Regions from separate parts of the Homo sapiens genome. Here region 2 is linked to region 1. Evidence: fine-mapped expression QTL. Tissue or cell type: lung. Region 1 holds a variant in brackets; the other region holds the start of a gene. All regions are shown on one strand. Distances are from middle to middle.

Region 1 (2,911 bases):
ATTTCTCCTTCATTTATGAAGCTTATTCTGCCAGAACATAAAATTTTTGGCTGACAGTACTTTTCTTTCAGCAGTTGGAAATGCCATTCTCTTCTTTTCTAGCCTGTAAGGTTTCCACTGAAAAGTCTGCTGTTAGTCTGATGAGTTTTCTTAATAGGTAACTAGATGCTTTTCTCTTGCTAATTTTAAAATTCTTTCTTTCTTCTTGACTTTAGACTTTCTAAATGTACTATTATGTGAAGTTCTTTTTGCAATGTATTTGCTGGGGCTCTGTAGCTGGATGTCTAACTCTCTTGCTAGATGTGGAAGTTTTCATCAATTACTTCCTAAAAATAGGTGTTCTAATTTTTTAAAATCTCTCTTCCCCCTTGGAAATACCAAAAATGCATAAGTTTGGTCACACTATGTAGTCCCAGATATCTCAAAGTCTTTGATGATTCTTTTTTATTTATTTTTCTTTATTTTGTCAGACAGGACATTTCAAAAGACCTGTCTTCAAGTTCTTAGATTCTTTTTTTTTCTTCTAATTTTAGAGATAGGGTTTCACTATGTTGCCCAAACTGGCCTTGAACTCTGACCTCAAGGAATCCACCTACCTTGGTCTTCCAAAGTGCTGGGATTACAGGCATGAGCCACTGCACCCAGCCATGTTCTGAGGTTCTTTCTTCTGCTTGGTCCAGTCTACTATTGAAGCTTTTGAATATATTCTGTATTCCCTTCATTGAATTTTTTTAGTTCAAGAGTTTCTGCTTGTTTTTTTTTTTAAGTTATTTATCTAGGTAAATTTCTCATTCATTTCCTGGACTGATTTTCTAATTCTTTGTATTGATTTTCAAATTTCTCTTGCATCTTGTAGGGCTTTATAAAATCAGTATTTTGAATTCTTTATCTGGCATATTGAGGGATTCTTTTTGATTGGGATCTGTTGCTGGACAATTGTGGTCCTTTGATGATGTCACATTTTTCTCCTTTTTCATGTTTCCTGTGTCCTTTCATTGATATCTGCAAATCTTGTGTAGCAGTAGCTTGTTCAAGTTTTTTTAATTGCCCTGTAGGAGAAAATTTTTTTCCTGAAAAATGTATGCATGTTGTTAGTTGAGTAGGATACTTTGGCTTTGATTCTGGGTGCCTATGGTAGTGTGATCTTAGTATGACTTCATAGGCAGTACCCAGGGTCACTGGTATCTTTGATTTCCTTGGTAGCTTAGAGTACAGTTATTACTTGAGATCGAGGAGAAATTTAGCTGGGTG[G/T]TGGATGCCAACTGAGCCCATCTTTGGGCCCTGGTGGTGGCAGCAGCTTGGAGAGTATGGCTGAGCCCCAGAGCAGTCTACTGGCTTTGGTATTAGTGAGTCCTGGGAGGCTGATTCTTGAGCTTCCTAGTGGCTTGCTTAGAGGAGTCATGGGAGTTGGGGGACAGGGATGTGGGCAAGTTCTCAGGCCCCTGGGAAGCACAACCTGGTGTGATATGGGTGATGGCAGTAGTGGTGGTGGAGCAATCCACTAGGACCCAGGCAGTCCATGTTGGTGTTGCTGGTAGATGCAATGGGTTGGGTGGGCTACTCCCCAGTCCCACAGCATCCTGTAGCAGGGTAGTGGTATTGACCTAAGTGTGCTTAGGAGAGCTTGTTCTCCCCTGTGCCTCCCCCATCTGGGTGGCGGCTACAGTGGCATCACCTCAGACTTGGCAAAAAGGGGGACAGAGCCCAACATTAAACTCTTATGATTGTGCCAGCTGTGGGCTTGTGACCAAAGAGGACAGGCCCCTCTCTGGTAAGCAGTATGGACAAGAAGTTGTGGGGAGTGGGGTCTGCTCAAGTCTCCCTGTCACAGCAGCCCATAGCAGGGTCGGGGAAATTGTCCCAGGTATATGTAAAGGAGCTTTGTTTCCCTGTCCCTCCTTGGCCAGGTGGTGGCTGCAGCCAGGTCAACTCAAACTGGGCCTGAGGGCAGGGCATGGCACAGTATTAAACTCTCAAAATGGTTCCTTGGGCCTGCAACCAGGGTAAGAAGCTGTGGGGAATGTGGTTCACTCACATCTCAGTCTCAACAGCAGCCCGCAGCAAGGCAGAAAGGACCCTCCCATGGGTGCCTGGGAGTGCTGGGTCTCCTCTATACTTACTTGAAGCAGCACAGCAGCAGCAACCATTTCTATAGATCTCCAGTATCCAGGTTCTCAAAACAGCACTCAGCTGAGGCTGCTCTAGGCTCAAATGGGATTCCATGTGGGTTCCATTTTCCAGGGCAATGTCTCTGCACAATCTTTAGGGAGCTCCGTATGTCAGGCCCAAGACCCAAGTGGGTTGAGGGTTTCTACCATAGCCAAGATCATAAAAGCCCATTTCAAAGTGTGGAGCCCTGGGAGTTTCTCTCTTATAATTTCCCCTCATCCAGGAGCCACTCTCAGCTTTCAGTCAATCCCCTCTCCTTACTCACTTCCTGTGCTTCCCTTCTTTTCTCTGTTGAATCCCTTCTCTTCTCTGATGAATTCCAGCATTCTCTCCTAGATAATCTGTTTAAAATGGAGTTCCTCTCCACGAAGAAGGCCATGCTACCTGCATCTGGTCAGCCATCTTGATCACCTTTCTACATTTAAAGAGACACAGCATGTTAAAAAAAAAAAAAAAATTAGTTCCCTTACGAATTGTTGTTTACCTAGCCCTCCCTGTCAAGAAGTGGTCTGCATTTTAAAGGATTTTAATAAGATGAAAAATATTCTAGAATAAATTTGCAGTGACCCCATCTCCCATTCTTCCTGTGGTAAGGAAGACCAAAAGCTATTTTTTTTCTTTTTTCTTTTCTTTTCTTTTTTTTTTTCTAAAGGAAACCCCTTTCTCCTAACTCCCTTCAGAATCTGCTGCTTTTTTTCACCCCCCAGTGATTTCAGGGAATTGGGTTGTTAAAAATGTTTTC
Region 2 (2,911 bases), 33 kb after region 1:
CCAAGGGAAACTAGAGCTATATAATCCCATCATCAAGCCTTCAGCCCTCTTCCAGGACCTGCCCCAACCGGCCTATCCAGGACTGAAACAACAGCATGGGCCCCACCTCCACCCCACCATATGCCTGGGACCTAGGGTGTCAAATTCCCCAGGACCTCCAAACACTTCCTCCTCTGCCCCTCTGAGAACAGCAATCCTGGTGCACACCCACGAACCTGTGGGGGTACCCACACCTCCACCTGGCCTCCCAGACCCTTGACCGCAGGGGCTCTCCACCCAGCCTAGCCCCTGGCACCAGAGCCCTGGCCCAGCTCCAGGTTTTGCATTCTGCCCTTGTGACCTGGCCAGGAGGTGGGTAACTAGGGCCAGTTTCTTCTTCTTTTTTTTTTTTTTTTTTTTTTGAGACCGAGTCTCACCCTGTTGCCCAGGCTGGAGTGCAGTGGCATGTTCTTAGCTCACTGCAACCTCCACCTCCCGGGTTCAAGCGATTCTCCTGCCCCAGCCTCCCAAGTAGCTCAGACTACAGGCGTGAGCCACCATGCCTGGCTAATTTTTGTATTATTAGTAGAGACAGGGTTTCACCATGTTGGCCAGGCTGGTCTTGAACTCCTGACCTCAGGTGATCCACCCACCTCGGCCTCCCAAAGTGCTGGGATTACAGGCGTGAGCCACTGCGCCTGGCCTACTAGGGTGAGTTTCTAAGGCAGGAGCTGAGAGTAGACATGGCTAGTAGGGTGCTCAGGAGGGCAGGAGGAGGGCTGTTTATGAGCCAGTGGTGGGAGAGAGTGTCATTCTAGTCTGAGAGGCTTTTTCCCTGTGGCTTCCAGCTCTGCCCTTTTCTTAAACACTCCTTCAGCCTCAGCTTGGCTTCAGTCCCACCAAGTGCAGTCTGACTCGTGGAGACATGAGAGATAGAGAGAGTGAGAGACCAGAGAGATCAGGAGACAGTGACTGAGAGGGACTTACAGGGAGATCAGGGAGAGAAGCAGAGAGAAGGAGAAAGCCCAGAGAGCATAAGAAATGAAGACCCAGAGACACCAAAGGAGGGAGAGACAGAGACACAGAGAGACAAAAAGATTCAGAGGCAGAGACTGTAGAGGCAGAAGCAAAGCAAGACACAGAGCATTTCAGAGACCCACGGCAAGAGACAGGGAACAGCATGGAGAACTATGAAAAAATAGGCTTCCAGAGAAAGAGAAAACTCCAGCTCTGGAGGGAAAGGGACTTAGCCAGGGCCACTCGGCCCATCAGTGGCAGAAATGGACTTGAACCCAGAGAAAAAGAAACAAGTGCCCCAAATACCAAAGGAACCCAGCCCCCATCCCTGGCCCATCATTTTGCGACAGCCCCATGACTACCCCAAAACCAGGCCCAGGCTCCAACTGGCAAAGCAAAAAAAAAAAACAAAGAAAGAAAGAAAGCTTTGCCCCATCCCAGGAGGGCCCCCAGGCGCAGCCCCCTCCCACGGCACCTTTCCAGCTGGCTGTGAGCCCTAGGGCCGCAGGAAAGGTATGGCAAGATGATGGGAGGGATTTAAAGTTCACAGCGAGAACAAGAAAAGTGGGGTTAAGGAGGAGGGTGTGGGCAGAAACAACTTAAGAACAACCTCTGCCCCACCACCCCCCAAGCACACCCAGAGCTGCAGGCTCTAGCGCATCCCAGCCAGTGTCTCCTGCAGCTCAGCAGGTAAAGGGCCCCGGTGAGGGAGGCAGAGAAGGAGGGGGTGTCTCCCAAGAGAGGGTGGGTCGCCAGCTCCAATCTCTGTCTCTGAGACTGGCTAGGAATCTTTTTTGCTGTTTCCTCTGAGAGCTCTCATGTCCCTGTTCTGAGCACTGGGATTTCTTTACTGGTGCTTCACCAAGTAGGTGGCTTCTCTCTCTGCAATGCAACCCCATGGTTGGCAACACTTGATTTTTTCCTGTCACTGTTTCTGCCTGTGCCCTTCCTCTCTGTCTCCGTCTCTTTCTCTCTCTCTCTCTCTCTTTTTTTTTTTTTTTTTTTTTTTGAGGCTGGAGTGCAGTGGTTCAATCTCAGCTCACTGCAACCTCCACCTCCTGGGTTCAAGCGATTCTCCTGCCTCAGCCTCCTGAGTAGCTGGGATTACAGGTGCCTAACACCACGCCTGACTAATTTTTGTGTTTTTAGTAGAGACAGGGTTTCACCATGTTGGCCAGGCTGGTCTCAAACTCCTGACCTCAAGTGATCCGCCTGCCTCGGCCTCCCAGAGTGCTGGGATTACAGGCGTGAGCCACCGTGCCCGGCCTCAGTCTCTCTTGGTCTGCCCTTTGCAGCCTACCCGTCTCTTTGTGTGGCTCTAATATTCCCTGCCTCTCTTATTCTCTCTCTCTCTCTCTCCATCTCTGTCTATGTGACTCTGTCTTTGTGTATCTGTTTCTGTCTGTCATTCTCGTCTCCCTCAGTCTCTGTGTCTAGCTCTGTCTCTCCCTCTCTCTGTCCCTCTTACCCTTTTTCTCTCCATCCTTCCATGTCCCTCTCTGTCTCTCAGTCAGTGTCCATCTCACTGTCTCTCCACTCAATCTCCCTTGTCTTTCTCTAGCTCTGTGTCTGTCTAGTTCTGTCTCTTTCTTTCTCTAGTCTATGTCAGCCTCTCTCTTTCTGTGATGTGCTCTCTGGCTCTCCCTATCTCTGTGTTTGTCTGTCTCTGTCCCTGTGTGTCTTGATCTCTCTTTATCACTGTCTCTGTATGACAGTCTCTTGACAGACAGGTGATGATAGATAGATAATAGACAGATGATACACAGATGATAGATTATGAAGATAGTAGATAGATGATAGATATAGATAGATAATAGATGATAGATAATAGACAGATCAATGATAGATGATAGAAGAATAGATAGATGATGGATAGACAGATGATAGATGATAGATAGATAGATAGATGATAGAT

What was found. PIP is the estimated chance that this variant, and not a neighbour inherited with it, causes the effect. A credible set is the group of variants that fine-mapping cannot tell apart.
Region 2: it holds the start of CYP2F1, and the variant in region 1 is the best candidate, but not a certain one, in a credible set for the expression of CYP2F1 in lung (TOPMed, PIP 0.52).

The regions. Positions count from the first base shown.
Region 1 is chr19:41,080,141-41,083,051 of GRCh38, forward strand. No RefSeq gene overlaps it. Among named protein-coding and RNA genes, the nearest start is that of CYP2A13, 6.9 kb to the right of the region's middle. The variant G/T (reference allele first, on the strand shown) is at 1,252.
Region 2 is chr19:41,112,807-41,115,717 of GRCh38, forward strand. It overlaps CYP2F1 (cytochrome P450 family 2 subfamily F member 1), which reads left to right and starts at 1,626. Exons shown (of 10, transcript NM_000774.5): 1 at 1,626-1,686.